Linked DNA regions of Homo sapiens: regions 2 and 3 are each linked to region 1. The links come from fine-mapping of genetic effects on gene expression. A gene starts in region 1. Each other region holds a variant in brackets. All regions are shown on one strand. Distances are from middle to middle.

Evidence for each region.
Region 2: its variant is fine-mapped to the expression of USP36 in monocytes after LPS (Fairfax 2014, PIP 0.95). The same link has a PIP of 0.9 or more in NK cells, monocytes and monocytes after interferon gamma.
Region 3: its variant is fine-mapped to the expression of USP36 in whole blood (TOPMed, PIP 0.93).

What each region holds. Positions count from the first base shown.
Region 1 is chr17:78,836,579-78,843,887 of GRCh38, reverse strand. It overlaps USP36 (ubiquitin specific peptidase 36), which reads left to right and starts at 3,074. Exons shown (of 21, transcript NM_001385174.1): 1 at 3,074-3,152; 2 at 5,138-5,301. LOC124904067 (a long non-coding RNA gene) reads right to left here and starts at 2,774. Exons shown (of 2, transcript XR_007065923.1): 1 at 1-2,774. RefSeq lists silencers at 2,587-2,686, 3,147-3,666 and enhancers at 2,807-2,996, 4,591-5,105, 5,106-5,620.
Region 2 is chr17:78,800,334-78,806,276 of GRCh38, reverse strand. USP36 (ubiquitin specific peptidase 36) reads left to right here. Exons shown (of 21, transcript NM_001385174.1): 15 at 1-121; 16 at 2,299-2,892; 17 at 3,742-3,953. Among named protein-coding and RNA genes, the nearest start is that of CYTH1, 21 kb to the right of the region's middle. The variant A/G (reference allele first, on the strand shown) is at 2,499.
Region 3 is chr17:78,785,108-78,792,416 of GRCh38, reverse strand. It overlaps a transcript of USP36 not described here. Among named protein-coding and RNA genes, the nearest start is that of CYTH1, 6.5 kb to the right of the region's middle. RefSeq lists an enhancer at 973-1,142 and a cis regulatory region at 6,940-7,309. The variant C/T (reference allele first, on the strand shown) is at 3,560.

The DNA.
Region 1 (7,309 bases):
CACGATAATCGCTTGAACCCGGGAGGCGGAGCTTGCAGTGAGCTGAGATTGCACCACTGCACTCCAGCCTGGGCGACAGAGTGAGACTCCACCTCAGAAAAATAAAAAACAAGAGAAAACTACAAAATACGTATCCTGACTTGTGCCAAAGCATCTCGGAGCAGCTGCTGCTCTTGCTAGTGCCCTCTGTGGTCCCAACTCCTGGCCGCCACCTGCCCGGGCCTGGGCTGCCGCCTTGCACAGCCATTCTCCTGGCACGGTCAGATGTCTGAGAGTCAACACCATTTAGGAAGGATGACTTTCTCCACCCCTTCTGAGACTAGAAACAAAATGGAAGGGTCATAAGAATGGTGCCAAGCAGCCAAAAGAGCCACTTCCTTTGGGTACCAACAGGTGGCGTGGCGTCATGGCTCCTGTCTTCCCCAAGTGCCTGTGCCCAGCAGCTGCCTCTGCCTGTGCATCTTCTAGGGCGATGCTAATGGCAGATTTCCTGAGAGCCCTGTCCCATCTGCATGGATGGGAAGGACGACATACATTGCTGTTCTTCCTAAGGAAAGTGGCATCCCTCCCAAACCTGGGAACTCGGGTCTCCATGGACCGCACAGACACCTGAGAAAAGGTTTTGCATCAGAGGCTGATGGCAGAGGCTCTACCAGTCCAGCAAGTCACCTGACTGATGTGAAGGGTTCCCCTAGAGCAGGAGGGACATCTGGGCTGAAAACCCTCATGTGAAAAGGCCTGGGCCCCCCAGGCACTCGGCACCTATGAAATGCAACCCCAGCGGGTGGAAAAGCAAGTCCACGATTGCACTCCCCTGCCAGGCTAGGGAGAAATTCTGCTATTGCAGTTCAGGGGCAACACACCCACCCCCGCAGACCTGAGGGTGGCTGCAACTGTCAGCCACACCCAAAGAATGCAGGGCAGGCTCACTGTGGATAAATGTTTATGAAAGAACCACATGGAAATTGAAATATTTGAGATGAGACTGAATGATCTCTAAATCCTAAAAGAGAAAACTAGAGAAACATTAAAGATGAAAGAATAAAATATTCTGTTATAGAAAGCTGTAACCAAAACGGATCACATTAGAACTTACCTCAAGAAAAAGGTGCATTAACAGAATAGTTGTATTGTCACCCAAAAATTACCTGGTCCGCTCCCTGCCTGGGAGGTCAAGGTAAGATGGACTCAATTCCTCTCCTGGTTTCACAGCCTGTAGAAGATGGCTGAAGATTTGGGCTAATTTCGTGAGAGACCTACGTTGCATTTCTTTCTTTTTTTTTTTTTTAGACCAAGTATTGCTCTGTTGTCCAGGCTGCTGGAGTGCAATGGCACGATCTCAGCTCATTGCAACCTCCACCTCCCAGGTACAAGCGATTCTCCTGTCTCAGCCTCCCTAGTAGCTCGGATTACAGGCGTGCGCCACCATACCCAGCTAATTTTTGTATTTTTAGTAGAGACAGGTTTTCACCATGTTGGCCAGGCTGGTCTGGAATTCCTGACCTCAAGCGATCTGCCTGCCTCGGCCTCCCAAAGTGCTAGGATTACAGGCGTGAGCCACTGTGCCCTGCCTTTTTTTCTTTTCTTTTCTTTTCTTTTGAGACGGAGTCTCGCTCTGTCGCCCAGGCTGGAGTGCAGTGGCGACATCTCAGCTCGCTGCAACCTCCGCCTCCTAGGTTCAAGGGATTCTCGTGCCTCAGCCTCCTGAGTAGCTGGGATTACAGGCGCCCACCACCACACCCAGCTAATTTTTGTATGTTTAGTAGAGACGGGGTTTCACCATGTTGGCCATGCTGGTCTCGAACTCCTGACCTCAGGTGATCCGCCCACCTTGGCCTCCAAGTGTTGGGATTACAAGGGTGAGCCACCGCGCCCAGCCCAAGGATTCTTACAGATAGGGCATAGTCTCAGCATCAGACTAATATGGTTATCTTGTTTGCTTTTTTCAAAAAACACCAGCGCCCAGGTAATAAATACAAGGTGAATTTTGTTCCAAGTACATCTAGCCTCTCTCCCCATCTCCAGTCCCTGCTTTAGGATCCGTGGGGAGGGCATGGAAATTCGTTTTGGGTTGTTTACCTGTGACTTCACCCTACTCATCATTCCTACTTACATCAAAAAAGACACAGCAGATACGACTGTGTTTGCAAAGTTCTGCCTTTTGGATAAAGTAGTTTATGCCCATCCTGTGCTTCTCTGAGTTTCTGAGGTCAGGCCAGGAACCAACACTCTCAACCTGCCCAAGGGAATGGGGAGGAAGCCAGCGAAGTTGCCTCAGATCAAGAGGATTTTTAAAAATACTGCAAAAGAAATACGTGCTCACAAATACTCAGCTAAAACCTTCGCAGAGCTGTCAGAGGACAAAGCTTTTGGAGGGAGTGGGTGGAGCTAGAGATTGCACAGCCGCCACCAGCCTACAAAGGTCAAATCTCACACTCTCAGATCCCTAATTCCGAAGAGCCATTTCCTCGGCAGCCCCAGGCTTTGGCCGATCGCTCCCAGATCCCTCCCTCCCCAAACTGCAGGTGCTCCGCGTGTGGGAGTCACGGATGGCCCCAGAGCCCGGGACGTTAAGGCCGAGCGCCCGCGCCTCCGCTTCTCCACAGCCACCTGACGGCCAGGGGCAGGTGGGGGAGCCCAGCCTTCTCCCTGCCCGGGAGACAGCGCGGGAGGGCTGTTGCAGGGGTGGGCAAAGTCCCTCGAGTCCCCGTTCTGGGGCGGGGGCGCGCGCCACTGTCACACTTCAGGCGTCCGCCACGCCGCCAGGTGTGCTCGGCCGACCCGGAAGTAGCGGCACCTCTAGTGCGCTGCGGAGACGTCACCCTGCCGCGGCACAGGGGCGGGAGCGCCTGTGGCTCTGCGCACTTGCGTCATCACGTAGGCTGGCGGGGTCCCGTGATGGGGAGGTGACGTAGGCGACACGGAAGCGGCGGTGGGCGGGGACAGGGAGTTAGCGGAATCTAGCCCCGCCTCTTAAAGCCTCCCAACCCTTTCGGAGTTAGCGCAGCGCGAACGCTGGGTGCGGCGCCTTTAAGCGTCGCGGTGACACGTGTGTGAGGCGCCGGAGGCCCGGATGGTGCGCGTGCTGGGCCGCGGGCCGAAGGAGTCGCCAGGGCTGCGTAGGCTTGTGGCGCGCCCGCGGAGAGGCCGGGGTAGGCTGGGGTCGGGTCGGGGCGGTGCGCAGGCCTGGGGACGAGACCGGGGCGGGGGGTTCCGCGAGGCCTGGGGCGCGGGAAGGGCTGGCGGGCGCAGCCGGGACGCTCAGGGAGAACGTGGGCGCGGGTCCGCGCAGGGCTTCGGCCGTCCCCGAGGAGGACCCGGGATGCTCCGCCCGCTCGCGAGCTCGCTTCTCCAGAGCCCGGGTATTCCCGAGGAGGGTCCGGGGCCGGGCTGTCCTCGCCGGTCTCCGCCGTCCCCCGGGCTCCGGGCCGGTGATGGGGGTCGCCGGGGCCCGCTGTCTGTGCAGGATTCAGGTCAACTTCGGAGAGGTTGAAGTCGGAATCAGGGCGAGGGCGTCGCGTGCGGCCGCAGAGCTCAGCGGGGCGGGTGCGGCCCCGGGGCGGGCACCTTCCTCGTGGTTGCGGAGGAGGCCATGGAGCCCGGGGCGGGGTGCGGTTCCGATGCTGCTGCTTCTGGCGGGTGGCGTGGGGGTCCTGGGCCTGGGGCTGGAGTGGCGGCCGCCAAACCCAGACACACGAGAGGGGAGACTCCGCGCGCCCCCGTTTACGTAACGCTCGCCACGGAGCCATGCTCGGGGAGAGGTGCTCGGGTCGCTGTGTCCGCGGCCGGGCTCGGGGCAGGCGCTGCGGAGTCGCCCGGGAGGCCCCTGGAGCGCGGCGCTGGGCCCCGGGAGGCCGCTGCTTCCGTGGGCTCCTCTCCCCAGCACGTGGTTGACCCTGCGAGCGTCCGTTGCAGTTCATCCTGGAAAAGTGACTTTAGAAGGAGGAGGGAGCGGGAATGAGCCTAAATGGTGCTGGCTGGGGTTCGCGCAGGTGGAAATGTGGATGAGGCCTGTGCTGTCCTTGGACAAGAGAGAGCATCCTTCCTGAGTTGGGTAGAGTGTGGATGGTGTGTGCGTCGGAGGGATTGCTAGTGATTACAGGAACACTTGTCTCGGGCTCCTACACGTCAGAGAGCGAGCGAGCGTTGTTTAGGTTATTGCTTAATGTTTTAGGTGGAATTGGTGAAGTAGAGATTGACCTGTCCCACTTGAAAAATTGTGTTCAAAATCTCTGCATCTACATTAAGGAGTGGGTTAAGTTCAAAGTTACTTATCTCGAGTGAAACTGGGTTACATCTCCCAAGGTTCGTTTATCCCCTCCCTAAGTGGTTCTCAAGCGTTGGTTGTGCATGACAGAGTTCTCACCTTCCAGGGTAGATGTGAGTCCTAACCGAAAGCAGTGATATTGTGGGGAGTTTTTAATACGACTGGATGTCTTCACTTTGTAGATGGCTTTTATTCTGAGATCATTTCCTTACACATTTTTCGGGAGTTGGTATGCTTTTATTTATGGATGAAGTCATAGGTCTGAGATTTGCTGTAGAATTACCTGGGGATGGGAAGTGACTCAGGATGGGTCAGATGTAGTTACTGAGGCTGAATAAGGGGGGCTCATGTGCTCCCTGTGCGGTTCTCCATCTGTGTGTTTGAATGTTTTCACTGTAAACTGTTTTTACGAACCTTAATTTTATGTAATCATAGTGATCGTAGATGGTAATGAAAGAGAAAATCCACACTTAGCAAAGCAAAATTTTGGCAACTCCTATTACTCCCTGAGGTTTGTTGTTGTTGTTATTGAAGTTTTACTGGTTCATTAAATCCAAAACTTGGGGATTTATTACCTCTTACTCTTTGGAAATAAGATTAGACTGGAGCTGACTGGCAGGTGTTGGGGAGGTTTTCCTTCTCTGGGCTTGTCTGGGGTCAAGGTTAAGGTGTTCATATCGTGTGCATTACAACAACTGGTGATGAGGTAGTACGGTCCACCCGCCTCATCCTGAGTGCACGCGTGGATGCTCCTTGGACGGCTTTTTCGTGGTAGAGGGTTCCCGGTGCGCGCCGCATCCCTGGGAAGTAGCTGAAGAGAAGGCACAGGAAGAGTCGCCTCCACTGATGGTCTCCCTGTCCCTCCCACAGGCTCTGACGCCCGCTCTGCGGCTTCGGTGTTTGAACAGGCCACAGTCCAGGAGCGCTTACATTCAGGAGCTCCGCGTAGCACCTGCCCAACCAAACTCAGCCCTCCGTTAAGATCCTGGTTCCATGCCGCAGTAGGACAGCAGGCCCAAGTCTGCACATCCCAGGTGAGTCTGCGAGGCTTCTGTGTATTTTTTGATTCCGTTGAATTGTCTGCATGTGACGCAGCAGTGATTGTTCAGTTGGTGAGAAGTCTTTGATAATTCTCATGAGAAAAGGCTCTTTTATTTTCTCAAATCAGACAACTTATAATGCTTTTTTTTAAATAAGCTTCTGAAATTTCTTTACAGAAGTTTTTTGTTTTTTGTTTTTTTTTTTTTTTGAGACCAAGTCTTGCTCTGTTGCCCAGGCTGGAGTGCAGTGGCGCGATCTCGGCTCACTCCAACCTCTGCCTCCCGTGTTCAAGCAATTCTCTGCCTCAGCCTCCTGCGTAGCTGGGATTACAGGCGCCTGCCACCATGCCTGGCTAGTTTTTTTGTATTTTTAGTAGAGAAACATCTTCGCCAGGCTGGTCTTGAATTCCTGACCTCCTGATCCACCCGTCTCGGCCTCCCAAGTGCTGGGATTACAGGCGTGAGCCACGATTTTTTTTGTTTTAAAGATGGGGTCTCACGATGTTGCCCAGGCTGGACTGCACTGGCTATTCACAGGCGTAATCATAGCTCACTGCAGCCTCAGGCTCCTGCCCTCAAGTTATCCTCCCACCTCAGCCTCCCAAGCATCTGGGACGACAGGCCCAGGCCACTGCACCTGGCTTTTCTTTACAGAAGTTTTTGTAGAAAAAGATACTTGATCCATGTATAGAATTAGATGATCCACAGTGATAAATTTGAATGGCTTAATATGAGGTGCTGGAGGAAGTCCTTACTTTCACTAGAGCAGAATTTTGGGGCACACTTGACTTGTTGATTCTCTGAGGGCAGGCTGGGTACTGAATACCAGAGGAAGTCATCATTTTTCTGATGTGAGTGAGCAATTTAAGGGACATATTTTTGAAATTGTGACTCAGATAGTCTGTGCTGTGTTTGGGAAGGTTAAGTTGAGAGGTGGTGGGTAGGGGAGGGCAAGTGGTGGATACAAAGGTAGCGATTGGAGAGGTGCAGGGGTCTCTTCTTGGTTACAGTTTCCATGCAGCTGCACCAACAGTATCGATCCTCTGTTAGGGACTGTAGTATGTAGCAAGCTCTAAAGCACTTCCCAAGCCTATTATTTTTGTTGCTATTTTACAGTAGAATAGGGGGTTTGGAGAAGTCATAGTAGTTGTCCCTGGGTTTCATAGCTAAGGATGATAGAACCTCCCGGGGCCACCACATTCCAAAGCCTGTGATCTCCCCACTCTCCTGCTTGGCTTTTCTTCTTCTCTTTTGATAAGAGTCCTGGGAAGACATTTGTTTAAGTTTAGGTGTCTAATGGATACTAGTCTCTAGGCCTGCTACTTGCTTTTCTTCTCCTTCCTCACTTTTAAAAAGATAATTTGTACTCCAAGCACTGTGTAATGGAGATTAATACAAGCCACAAATATAATTTAAAATTTTATAGTAGCCACATTAAAAAGAAGCAGGTGAAATTCATTTTCATAATTTATTTAACTCAATATATATAAAATATTACCATTTCAACAGGTAACTGATCTAAAAATTACTGGGATGTTTTACATTCTCTTCTTATACTAGTGAGTATTTCTCTTCAAAATCTGGTGTGCATTTTACACTTATAGCACCTCTCAACCTGGACTAGCCTCATTTCACATGCTCAGTAGCCACGTGTGGCCTGTGGCCTTCATATTGAAGAGTGCAGGTCTGTACAGACATGCATGCTCATCTGACCTGCATGCTAATTCATTTATTGCGTGGGTGTGTGTGTGTGTGTCCGTTTGTGTGTGTGTGTGTGTGTGTCCGTGTGTGTATAACCAGTTTGTATGTGAGAATTAGTGTGCCCCTGTTTTGGAGCAGACATTTGGACCACGTGATGACCTTTGGAAGGAAATGGCACCAAGAATGATGTCCAGAGCCACTTGATGAGTATCTGATGAAGAGATGCACATGGCAGGGGCTGTCTGGCTGCCTCAGGGCCACTGTTGTCTGCTCACCTCTATTTGTAGTGGCATCTTATCTT
Region 2 (5,943 bases), 37 kb after region 1:
TGTGGAGGGCGACCGGCAATGACCTCCGTCCACCTCCCCCCTCACCATCCTCCGACCTCACCCACCCCATGAAAACCTCTCACCCCGTCGTTGCCTCCACTTGGCCCGTCCATAGAGCCAGGTAAGCTTTGGGCCGGGATCTTCTGGGTGCCAACTGGTTCTCCCTGTGGTTGCGTGTGCTTGGCTGGTGAGGAGTTGGACGAATCGCCAACCTCACAGGACAGACAAAGCATTGGGGCAGCCAGGAGGTACAGGGGGGCGTCACTGACCAAGATCCCCCTCTTCTGTGTTCCCCTGTGGTAAAGGAGCTTTGGGTGGTGAAGGCAGTTCGGCCTCTGCAGTCCTGATGTCTTAGTTCTGTCTTTGTTGGTGGTCTGTCTGCGACATCCTTGTGGTGATGTGGTGTGCTGGGGACTGACCTGTCCTGTATCCCTACCAGCCCCATGACAGTACTTCCCAGTCGAAGAGAAAGGCGAAGTGAGGCCTTGGCGAGAGGCTTGAGTGAGCTCGGAGTCCCGAGCGTTTTTTGTGGGACGTCTTGCCTGCTAGCGTCATGCAGGTTAAGAACTGTCTCAGGGCTCTCGGGTTCCTCTGCAGACACCTGCCAGAGATGCAGCCCCTTCCCTGTGCATGTGGGCCCTGGTCCGCAGGGGCTGCCTGCGTCTCTTAGGTGCCTCGAGTGGCAGGAAGTTGAGAGTAACTGGTAAATGGCTGTCTGGAAGCCGCTGGGAGTGGGGACGGAAGCAGTGAAAGATGGGGTGAGTCATGAGGCGGCCTGCGGGGACTGTACTGGTGGCCTCGGCGCTGGGTTCTAGTTCTAGAATCTCCAGTGCTACATGAGGGCGAGGTATGACTGTGCGTCGCCCACAGCCTCTGCCTTACTCTCCTCTCACATATACACACACAAGCACACCTCTGCCCTATACCTAGCATAAGATTTGTGTACGTGGGAGGGCCTTAAGTGTTTGGGTGTTTTTCGTTTCTTGCCTTATAAGCTTTTTTGGAAAAGATTCCAGAAGACACTTAGAGTAATCAAACATCGTGCAGCTGGCATGGCCCTTATAGTTTGTTTAGATGATGACGGGGGTCCTGTTTTCTGCAGGAACCCTGGGAGGTGGGCTTTGTGGTCCCAGCTCATTGACAAATGAGAACATGGTGGTTCAGAGTGGGAAGTTAATTTTCCTAGAGACACATAGCTGGCAAGAGGGAGCCTCACTGGGTTCGGCACTAGATCCTGTCCCGGACACGCCTTGCTCATGATTCTGCTCTACGCATCTGTGTCCCGGTTTCAGCGTCCTAATGACGGTAATGTGGAGGTGTCATTAGGCCAGCTCAACACTTGCTTTCCTTATGAGGCTCATTTCCTGCCCGGGAACACCCTGAGACTTTCGGAGGTTGGAAAATAAATCCTCACGGGATCTTTTTTTTCCTTACCATTTATTGTTTCGTGAAGGTTTCCTCCCTTAACACATTTGTATTAAAGATGTTTTTACATTAGAGCTCGCAAAAATACTTGAATTGCTTGGTGACAAGAAACTAAGGCATGGAACAATTCTTATTAACTTTGCCTTTTAAAAAAAAAAAAATTTTTTTTTTGACTTTTAAAATCACGTGTTGGCTTGCTTTTTTTTTTTTTTTTTTTTTTTTTTTTAAATCTCAGGGATCAGTTATTTTAAGTTCCAGGGTACATGTGCAGGATGTAAAGGTTTGTTACAGAGGTGCCATGGTGGTTTGCTGCACCTATCAACCCACCACCTAGGTAACTTTGTTTTTTTTTTTTTGTTTTTGTTTTTGTTTTTTTGGTTTTTTTTTTTTTTGAGACGGAGTCTTGCTTTGTCGCCCAGGCTGGAGTGCAGTGGCGCGATTCGGCTCACTGCAACCTCCACCTCCCAGGTTCAAGCGATTCTCCTGCCTCAGTCTCCTGACTAGCTGAGATTACAGGCGTGTGCCACCACGCCCGGCTAATTTTGTATTTTTAGTAGAGATGGGGTTTCACCATGTTGGCTAGGCTGGTCTCAAACTTCTGACCTCAGGTGATCCAGCCACCTTGGCTTCCCAAAGTGCTGGAATTATAGGCATGAGCCACTGTACCTGGCCAACTTTGCATTTAAATAGATGTTGAATTAATTGTTAGCTTTCTTTCAAACATACATGTAACTTAATGTGTATCTGAAAACTACAGGGTAAAAGCCTTTTCAGATTTTTAGGTGAAAGGGAGGGGAGTGAGGGTAGACAGAAGGAACAGCTCTGCTGGGTCTTTCAGAACATCCTCTCCCTGTTTCCTGGCTGTCCCCACAGGGCTGTGTCACCTGCTCCCCAATCATCCAGCCGCCTGCAACCCCCCTTCAGCCCCCACCCCACATTGCTGTCCAGTACCCCCAAGCCCCCAGGGACGTCAGAACCACGGAGCTGCTCCTCCATCTCGACGGCGCTGCCTCAGGTCAACGAGGACCTTGTGTCTCTTCCACACCAGTTGCCAGAGGCCAGTGAGCCCCCCC[A/G]GAGCCCCTCTGAGAAGAGGAAAAAGACCTTTGTGGGAGAGCCGCAGAGGCTGGGCTCAGAGACGCGCCTCCCACAGCACATCAGGGAGGCCACTGCGGCTCCCCACGGGAAGAGGAAGAGGAAGAAGAAGAAGCGCCCGGAGGACACAGCTGCCAGCGCCCTGCAGGAGGGGCAGACACAGAGACAGCCTGGGAGCCCCATGTACAGGAGGGAGGGCCAGGCACAGCTGCCCGCTGTCAGACGGCAGGAAGATGGCACACAGCCACAGGTGAATGGCCAGCAGGTGGGATGTGTTACGGACGGCCACCACGCGAGCAGCAGGAAGCGGAGGAGGAAAGGAGCAGAAGGTCTTGGTGAAGAAGGCGGCCTGCACCAGGACCCACTTCGGCACAGGTAAGGGCAGGAGCAAAGTGGCATCTGTCTACCTCTGACGAGAAACAAAGCAAAACCACAGAATCTACCCCCAAGTAGGTATGGTCTGGAAACGTAGTCTGCTTGCGTGGTTTTCTAAAATGTGGATTTGTGATCAGATGTCTCCTCTGGCTGGGTGTGGTGGCTCACACCTGTAATCCTAGCACTTTGGGAGGCTGAGGCGGGTGGATCACTTCAACCCAGGAGTTTGAGACCAGCCTAGGCAATATGGAAAAGCCCTTTCTCTACCAAAAACAAAAATTGGTTGGGCATGGTGGCATGCACCTATAGTCCCAGCTACTCAGGAGGCTGAGGTGGGAGGATGGTTTGAGCCCAGGAGGTGGAGGTTGCAGTGAGCTGAGATCGCGTCACTGCACTACAGCCTGGGTGACAGCTAAACCCTGTCTAAAAAAAAAGAAAAAAGAAAAAATATCTCCTCTGATAAATACCAGTGGATTGATCCTTGAAGCGACAGTGGTGTGGACAGTAGTGTCCATCATTGTATGTGCAGGGCCGTTCAAGGATGCTGGATCAGGTGTCCCGGGCCAGGCCAGGATCTGCCGTTTCATCAGGTCACAGTAGCCTGCACATTGGCGTCAACAGGCTTGGCTCAGTTAGGATGGGAAACGCGACTGGTTTTCCCTCTACTGTCTCCGTGGCTGCGTGTGGAGCGTCCGCTAATGCGTGTGGGGGGAAGAATGTTGCAGGGACCTGCGTGCACTGGGTCACAGCTGGGGTGGCACCTTCTCCATGTTGCAGGCGGGTGTCTGTGCGCTCCTGCTCCCCTTCCAATTTGCTCAGAGCTGACTGCTGCCTCTCACTTCCAAGCAGCTGCTCTCCCATGGGTGATGGTGATCCAGAGGCCATGGAAGAGTCTCCAAGGAAAAAGAAAAAGAAAAAAAGAAAGCAGGAGACACAGCGGGCAGTAGAAGAGGATGGGCATCTCAAATGCCCAAGGAGTGCCAAGCCCCAAGATGCTGTTGTCCCCGAGTCCAGCAGCTGCGCACCATCCGCGAATGGCTGGTGTCCTGGGGACCGCATGGGTATGCACCGGGCGAGGGGGTGGGAACCGCATGGGTGTGCACCGGGCGAGGGGTTGGGGGACCGCATGGGTGTGCACCGGGCGAGGGGTTGGGGGACCGCATGGGCGTGCACTGGGCGAGGGGTTGGACCGCGTGGGTGTGCACCGGGCGAGGGGGTGGGGGACCGCGTGGGTGTGCACCAGGCGAGGGGTTGGGGGACCGCGTGGGTGTGCACCGGGCAAGGGGGTGGGGGACCGCGTGGGTGTGCACCGGGTGAGGGGGTATTGGGGAGTGCACAGGCTGAGAGCAGCGTCTACTGCATCTGAGCTTGGGAGGGTCTGGGAGAAGATGTGGAGGGCCCTGGGACCCTACCAACCTTCACCCCCCACCCCCGAGTCTGCTCCCTTGGGTGATGGGGTTGAAGCTTCCTCATGTGTCACAGCATTTGACTGAAACAGCCCCATGAGAGAGGTTACAGTGCACATGAACTTTAAAACATTCTGTGAATGCCAGTGGGTCTTCCGATTCAAAGCTGTTCTGTCTACAGCTTCTCACGGAATGACTCCCTGAACTCCCAGCCTGAGTTTTTTTCTGTGATGGTTGAATTTAGAAGAGTTGGGTTCAAAAGTGAATCCTCCTCTCCCTCTATGTAGCTGGGCCATTCAGAACATAGCACGGTTTGCTTGCTGTTGGGGACCTGTGTGCTGTGGCTGTCCTTGGGCACCACCCCTCAATCGGAGGGTGTTTTGTTTTCTTTAGGGCTGGCTGGGGCATGCCTTGGCAGGCACCCGCCACAGAACACATTTGTTAAGTGAAGGGGAGAGAAAGTCCTGGCTGCTTGGTATAGGGGGCCGAGCTTGAGTGAGGCCTCCTCTGCAGTCTGGAAGGTCTGATTATGGCAGTGCATCTGGGGGTCAGCAGGACCTTAGAGACTGATTTGTATTTATCCAACTCTTAAGAAAGGAATTTATCGTTAAAAATGAAATGGTATGAAATAAATAGCAAAACGTGGGTGCTAGCTAGTGCCGACTGAGTTTGCTGGCCAGCATGCTCTCAGAAGTACTGCCCTGGCCGGGGGTGGTGGCTCACGCCTGTAATCCCAACACTTTGGGAGGCCGAGGCGGGCGGATCACAAGGTTAGGAGATCGAGACCATCCTGGCTGACACGGTGAAACCCCGTCTCTACTAAAAATACAAAAAGTTAGCCAGGCATGGTGGCGGGCGCCTCTAGTCCCAGCTACTCGGGAGGCTGAGGCAGGAGAATGGTGTGAACCCAGGAGGCGGAGCTTGCAGTGAGCCGAGATTGCGCCACTGCACTCCAGCCTGGGTGACAGAGTGAGACTCCGTCTCAAAAAAAAAAAAAAAAAAAAAAAAATACTGCCCTAACATGGCACCAGAGCTGTGCTCCGTGCCACCCTCGGAGCGAAGTGGAGTTGGCTTGTTAGTGCAAGGGACATCACTTGAGCACTTGCGGTGCGCCAGGGTCCATGCCAGGTGCTGGTTGTGTCTACTGAAGTGCGCCCTGGGCCCTCGGGGCTCCCTGGCAGAGCCAGAACCACACAGTAAGGGCTCATGCTCAGCAAGGAGGCGCTGGGGGCCGCATGGGCTCTTGCAGTCCTGTGCACCTGAGGAGAGTGGCTAAATGGGCAGGGCACCAGACCCAAGGGCAGGAGGCGCAGCACGTTGGGAGCAGGCAGGCTGCTCTGCATGGCCGGGTCCCTGGGCTGTGTGGATGAGATGGGAACCATGGAAGCCACTGTGTGGGGGCAGGGGACACTTAGCCTGGAGCTCACTGAGGAATTGGAGGCAGGGAGAAATGAGGTCAGATTTGTGTGAAGGGAGGTGAGTATATTCCAGGGGCTATGTGGCTAGCTGGGCAGAGGACGAGTTCAGAAAGGGTTTCTAGAACCCGATGAGGGTGGTGAGTGCTGTCCTGGTCCCGAGGTGCTGGGTGGACCTGTGCGGTGTTGCTGATGGGGACCAGGTTCCCCCTGGACAGGGCTTAGGAGGT
Region 3 (7,309 bases), 51 kb after region 1:
CTCTGTGGGGACCTCTACTGGAGATGCTGGACGAGGTGCCCCCTCTGTGTATGCTGGCACCCCACCTGTGCCCTTGAGGCCAACTTCTTCCACCCTGGGGACCTTGCTCCATTAATTACCCTGTCTGCTCCCGTGTCTCACTCTTCCCTTAGGAACATGTTCAGGCATCTCCCATCCTAAAAAGCCTGTGTGTCCTTGTGTCCCCTCTCAGCTGCCCTCTCCTTTGGTTGACATTCATTTTGCTCTGTGTTGACTCTCTGTGGTTCTTAGTCTAGCTTCTGCCATCATCACTTCTCAGTGACCTAATTCCCACTCTTGCCACCGACTTCTTCCCAGGATTTGACACTGTTGACCTCCGCACCCTGGAGAGCTCCTCTAAGATGTGAGCCTGTTGCATTTGCTGCATACTCTAGATCAAGCCCAGAATCAACTGATCCAGTCAATACATCCCACTGAACAGCCGACCGATCCACCCTCTGTCAGGATCTCTACTGTAGACACTGAAAGAGGTGCCCCCTCAGTATAGGATCCTGGCCTCAAATAATCTTCTCGCCTTGGCCTCCCAAAGCATTGGGATTACAGGTGTGAGCCACTGTGCCTGGCCTCCAGGACAATCTTTTAAGGCAAGAAACCAGAATCTAATCATTCCCCAACATAAGGTTTCTCACTCCTGTTCAGAGAAAATAGTCTCCTCTATTTTGTGATCCAGATCCCCCCTGCCTCTTCAGCCTTCCACAGCCCCCTAGAGGCCTCTGGGCAGCTGTCCAGCCCGTTGTTCTGGGATCTCAGAAAGCACTCCAGGCATTGAGGAAATTGCCCTGTGAGAGGGGCCTGAGATTAAAAATGTGCTTGTTCTTAGCAGAATCTGTACCAAACTGTTGCTTCAAGTTGCTTTCTCAAGGGGAAACTGCTGTATATTTTTGCTGCTTTAAAGGGATTAAAGTAGGGTCAGGCTGGAGTCAGGTTTGAATCATGACTTCCTATAAAAAGAAGGCCAGGGCCGGGCACGGTGGCTCATGCCTGTAATCCCAGCACTTTGGGAGGCCTAGGCGGGGCGGATCACCTGAGGTCAGGACACAACATGGAGAAACCCCGTCTCTACTAAAAATACAAAATCAGCCGGGCATGGTGGTGCATGCCTGTAATCCCAGCTACTTGGGAGGGTGAGGCAGGAGAATCGCTTGAACCCGGGAGGTGGAGGTTGCGGTGAGCCGAGATCGCACCATTGCATTCCAGCCTGGGCAACAACAGCGAAACTCCAGCTAAAAAAAAAAAAAAAAAAAAAAAGAAGGCCAGATTGGGAATCAAGACCTGTGTTCTAAGGGGTCTGCCATGAGTTAGCATCATGAATTTGCTTTTCTCCTCTAAAATGCAAAGGTTAGATTCAAATTATCATGATTGTCAGCTGTCACTCTCACGATACATGTCTTGCATGCGTGTTTTCATTGGTTTTCTCCCTTACTGCTTCATTTAGGAGGGTGTTGATTAGAGGAAGCAACAGGACATGGCTGCCAAATATCCATTAGACATTGAGTGAGAAACAGGTCACAAGATTGCCACTCCCTTAAGCAGGATCTAGGTATTTAGGTAGCTTCTTACCATCATGAGACCAGATTTCAACACACAGTCTAAGTACATGGCAAATACTTGCTGCGAAATGTGTGTAGGAAATTCAAGTTCTTTTACATAAACCAGTGATTTTTTTAAGGCCATTTTAAAATGAATGTGTTGGCCGGGCGCAGTGGCTCATGCTTGTAATTCCAGCACTTCAGGAGGCTGAGATGAGAGGATTGCTTGAGCCCAAGATGTCGAGACCAGCCAAAAAAGGCCAGGCATGGTGGCTTGTACCTGTAGTCCCAGCTCTTTGGGAGGCCACGGCAGACAGATCACAAGGTCAGGAGTTCAAAACCAGCCTGGCTAACATAGTGAAACCCTGTCTCTACTAAAAATAAAAAAAAATTAGCCGGGCCTCGTGGCACACGCCTGTAGTCCCAGCTACTCGGGAGGCTGAGGCAGGAGAATCACTTGAACCCAGGAGGTGGAGGTTGCAGTGAGCTGAGACCGCGCCATTGTGCTCCAGCCTGGGTGACAGAGTGAGACTCTGTCTTTAAAAAAAAAGAAAAAGAAAAAGAAACCATATCTCCACTAAAAATACAAAAATTAGCCAGGCGTGGTGGTGGGTGCCTGTAATCCCAGCTATTCAGGGAGGCTGAGGCAGAGGAGTCACTTGAACCTGGAAAGCCGAGGTTGCAGTGAGCTGAGATCGCGCTATTGCACTCCAGCCTGGATGACAGAGCGAGACTTCGTCTCAAAAAAAAAAAAAAGGTATTATTCTGCCATTTTTCTGTCTTATGTGGCTACAGTTCTCTTGGCAAGGCCTAGCACTTACCAGCCACCCGGTAAATATTTGTTGAATGAGTGAACTGGAGCAGCTGCTGAAGGCAGCATACTTTGTGACTGCATTCGGACCCTGCTCAGAAAACAGCCAGCCCACCGTCCATCAAAGTCAGTGGCTCCGCAGTCCACACTGCACTAATTCCCCTTCACATTGCCTTCCCTGAGCCCTACCCGCACCCCCTTTGTTTTTCTGCGTAAGTGAAAACATTTTGGTGAAGTCTAGCAGGAACTAGAGCACTAGCTCCTCTATTTGAAGTGAACGCCCAAACCGTGGCACGTGGCCAGCTGTCTTTTGGGTGGCACAGGGAACAGTTGGTGACAGCTGGATACAATCAAGTTCCATTACAAACAGATTTTAAGTGTCATTTACACACAGAAGAAATTGCAAGCTTTAGCAAAATAAAATCTGGGGGTTTTCAAAGCAAGACAATGCCCCAATCCAAGCCTGTGTGAGCAGTTCGCTTTGCAGCCTCTTGCGGGGATTAACACCCCTTCTTCACCAGGCTCCACCCTCTCTGCAAGGTCTATGCTGCAAAATTAGCAAGTCCAGGAGGCTTGCTCCCTGGCAGAGCTGCTGAGTCCTCTGTCTTCTATTTATTCACTTTTTGAAGAACCCTGAATTAAAGGCCTGTCTAACCACTGTTCAGCCTACTCCTTCTGGGTGGGAGGGGTCAGAGGCTGGCTTCTAGAAAAGCTGCTACCTCTAGATCATACCTTTCGCTTGGTCTCAGGGCGTACAAATCACTCACACAGTGATTGGGCAAGTGAAGGCTGGCATGCCCAGCTAAACCTCATCTCCTTTTTTTTTTTTTTTTTTTTTTTGGGACCAAGTTTCTCTCTTGTTGCCCAGGCTGGGGTGCAATGGCGCAATCTCGACTCACTGCAACCTCTGCCTCCCAGGTTCAAGTGATTCTTCTGCCTCAGCCTCCCAAGTTGCTGGGACTACAGGTGCATGCCATCACGCCCGGCTAATTTTCATATTTTAATAGAGACGGAGTTTCACCATATAGGCCAGGCTGGTCTCGAACTCCTGACCTCGTGATCTGCCTGCCTCAGCCTCCCAAAGTGCTGGGATTACAGGCGTGAGTCACCGCACCTGGCCTCATCTCTCTTTCGTGAAGCCAGCATTGTCCCCAGACATCTCAGTCCTCAGTGTCCCTCC[C/T]GTCCCCACCTCTGGCAAGAGGCAGCATTCTGGCCTTGGTGGAGGGGAATGACATCAGGCAGTGGCTGACAATTCTCCCCTTGGTGGAGGGGAGGCCGTAGATGATGTCCTGGTGTCTGGTGTTCTGATGGCCTCAGCAATACCTACCCCATGGACCCGAGTCCCTCCACATCTCGTCCTTGGCCCTTCCTTCCTTCATGCCTTCTAGCAGATGCGGGTGGGCTGTCTGTTGTTCCTGTAGCACACAGGGTCAGGGTGGGCATCAGTCCTGCCTTTCTTCTGAGACCCTCCAGCTTGCACCTTCTGGAAGCTGGGCACCCCCACTGCCCCACCAACCAGCTGGGAGAACATAAAGGTAACGAAATAGAATTACTTGTTTTAGAAAAAGGAACCAGGGCCGGGTGCGGTGGCTCACGCCTGTAATCCCAGCACTTTGGGAGGCCGAGGCAGGCAGATCACGAGGTCAAGAGATTGAGACCATCCTGGCCAACATGGTGAAACCCTGTCTCTACTAAAAATACAAAAATCAGCTGGGCGTGGTGGCGCATACCTGTAGTCCCAGCTACTTGGGAGGCTGAGGCAGGAGAATTGCTTGAACCTGGGAGGCGGAGGTTGCAGTGAGCCGAGATTGCACCACTGCGCTCCAGCCTGGCGACAGAGTGAGGCTCTGTCTCAAAAAAAAAAATAAATAAATAAAATAACCTATGCATATGCAATTTTAAACACAACTTGCAGAGCTTCATGTACTCGCTTCCTGAGGCTGCCATAACAAAGGACTACAAACTGGGTGGCTTAAGACAATGGGAATGTTCTCTCACAGTGCCAGAGAGAGACCAGAGTCTGGAATCAAGGTGTCCTCAGGGCTGTGGGGGAGAATCCAGCCTCTCCCAGGAATTCCTTGGCTTGTGGCCACATCACTCCACTGTGCTTCCATCTTCACGTAGCCATCTTTCCGTTCTGTGTCCAAATCTCCCTCTTTTTGTAAGGACACAAGTCCTGTTTGATTAGGTCCCACCCTAATGATCTCATGTTAACTTGATTACATCTGCAAAGACCCCACTTCCAAATAAGGTCACCATTCACAGGTACTGGGGCTTAGGACTTCAACATATCTTTTGTTGGGACATGACTCAACCCATAACAGTATGGAAAGGTTCTCTTCTCAGAGTTAAATGTGGCTCCCAATCTCTACCTCACAGATGATCAAGCGGTGCTGATTCACGAGAGTGGAAGCCTCCAGAGCTTGGGGCTTTCTGGCTGCTCTTCATTGACCTGTGTGTTCCCAGCACACGAACAGTGCCCCTAACGGAGATTTGTTCAGCGACTGAATATACACCTGTAAACGAGTAGCATGTATACATTGATTTTGATTACAAATGGTTCTGTATTATATACCACCGTTCTGACTGCTTTTTTCACTTATAGCTTGGAAATTGTCTTCTGTTGGTAATACAGAAATCTGTTTCAGTCTTTTGAAGCCTGTGGGTGCTTCCTTGTATGAAAGTATCCTAATATAGTTAACCTGTTTGCTATTGATAAACTTTGAGGTGGTTCCTGAAGACATTTTAAAACCATGGTATAGGGCCGGGCATGGTGACTCACGCCTGTAATCCCAGCACTTTGGGAGGCTGAGGTGGGTAGATCACCTGAGGTCAGGAGTTCAAGACCAGCCTGGGCAACATGGTGAAACCCCGTCTCTACTAAAAATACAAAAATTAGCAGGGCGTGGTAGCGCGTGCGTGTAATCCCAGCTACTCGGGAGGCCGAGACATGAGAATCGCTTGAACCTGGGAGGCAGAGGTTGCAGTGAGCCTGAGATCATGCACCACTGCACTCCAGCCTGAGCAACAGAGCGAGACTCAGTCTCAAAAAATAAATAAATAAATAAAATAAAACCATGGTATAAGCATAGGAAAAACATATTTTGGGTTACCTCTGCTTAAAACCTTTCTAATTCTTTTTATTAGGCAAAGCAGGGAAGCTGAAGGGGGAATGTTTCGGGAAAAACTCTCAAACTATGGTCTGCTCTCACCTCACAACAATCTTCACAGAAGACTGCTCTGCCCAGAGGCGTGGGGGTTTATCCCCACACACCAAGCAGCAGACACTACCTGGGGGTCCTCTCATCCAGTCCAACTTGGACTCTTATCTGGAGTGAGGTCAGATCTCACAGGCTGAGGGCTCAGTCCCCAAGACTGCATTTGTGACAGCAGTCACAAGCCTGGGCCTCTGGAAGTTCTGAGCGACCACCTTAAACTTGGGATTTCTATGACCCCCGCTCTTTGGGTTTGATTAATTTGTTGGAGCCACTCACAGAACTTAGGGAAACACTTACATTTAGTATTTTGTTTGTTTTTAATTTTTTTGAGACGAAGTCTCGCTCTTGTCCCCCAGTGTGATGGCGCGATCTCAGCTCACTGCAACCTCCACCTCCCGGGTTCAAGCGATTCTCCTGCCTCAGCCCCCCGAGTAGCTGGGATTACAGGCACCCGCCACCAAGCCCGGCTAATTTTGGTATTTTTAGTAGAGACGGGGTTTCACTATGTTGGCCAGGCTGGTCTCGAACTCCTGACCTCAGGTGATACAACAGCCTCCCAAAGTGCTGGGATTATAGGCATGAGCCACCACGCCTGGCCATTTAGTGGTTTATTATAAAGGATATTGCAAAGGATAAAGATGAAGAGATGGGGAAGGGCCCTTGCACAGAGCTTCCAAGCCCTCCCTAGGCATCACCCTCCAGGAACCTCCACATGTTCAGCTATCCTAGCCCAGTCTTTTTTTTTTTTTTTTTTTAATGGAAATTTTTATGGAAGCTTCCTTCCATAGGGCACAGGGCAGGACCCTCTCTGGGGAGGGTCTTAAGACCCACAATCAGAAAGGTGGGCAAGATTAAAGTCCTGCCTTGGGGCAGGTGAAAGAACAAGAGAAGGCCAGAGAGATTGTTTCCTGAGGCCTAAACCAACATTATAACAAAAGACTGTAACAAGAGCTAAGGGAGGTATGTGCCAGGAACAGTGGAAAATACCAGAGGGTGGCCAGGAGCAGGCTCATGCCTGTAATCCTAGCACTTTGGGAGACTAAGGTGGGTGGATCACTTGAGCCCAGGATTTCACAACCAGCCTGGACAACATGGAAAGACCCTGTCTCTAAAATAAATAAATAAATAAAATATTAGCTGGGTGTGGTGGCGTGCAACTGTAGTCCCAGCTACTTGGGAGGCTGAAGTGGGAAGATCGATGGAGTCTGGGAGGTGGAGTCTGCAGTGAGCCATGAGCCACTGCACTCCAGCCTGGCCAACAGAGTGAGACCCTGTCTCAAAAACAAAACCAAACCAAAAACTGTCAAATACCGCAGGGAGCTACCAACTTAAAAAAATTAGTTGTCAAGTGGATCAACCACTAAGGACTTAGAAACCACAGCGAAACTTGCAGAGAGCCCACACCCAGTTTAAAGGTTCTGTGAAGAATTAGTGGATGTGGGGGAAGAGGTCTGGGTTAGAATCCACAGCTGGAGTGGAGTCCTGTGGTTCCTGTCTCCCTGCCGCCGGCTCCTTCTCATTACGCTCCAAGGGCTGGGGGCACAAATACAAGATACGAGAGTGAAACTGACTTAACTCCTGCTTGCAAGTAGGCTGCATTTGGATGTCTATTAGCCTCGGCTTCCAAATGTCATGCAAAGATAACAGCTAAAGGACCTCTCTGGCTGGGCGCAGTGGCTCACGCCTGTAATCCCAGTGCTTTGAGAGGCAGA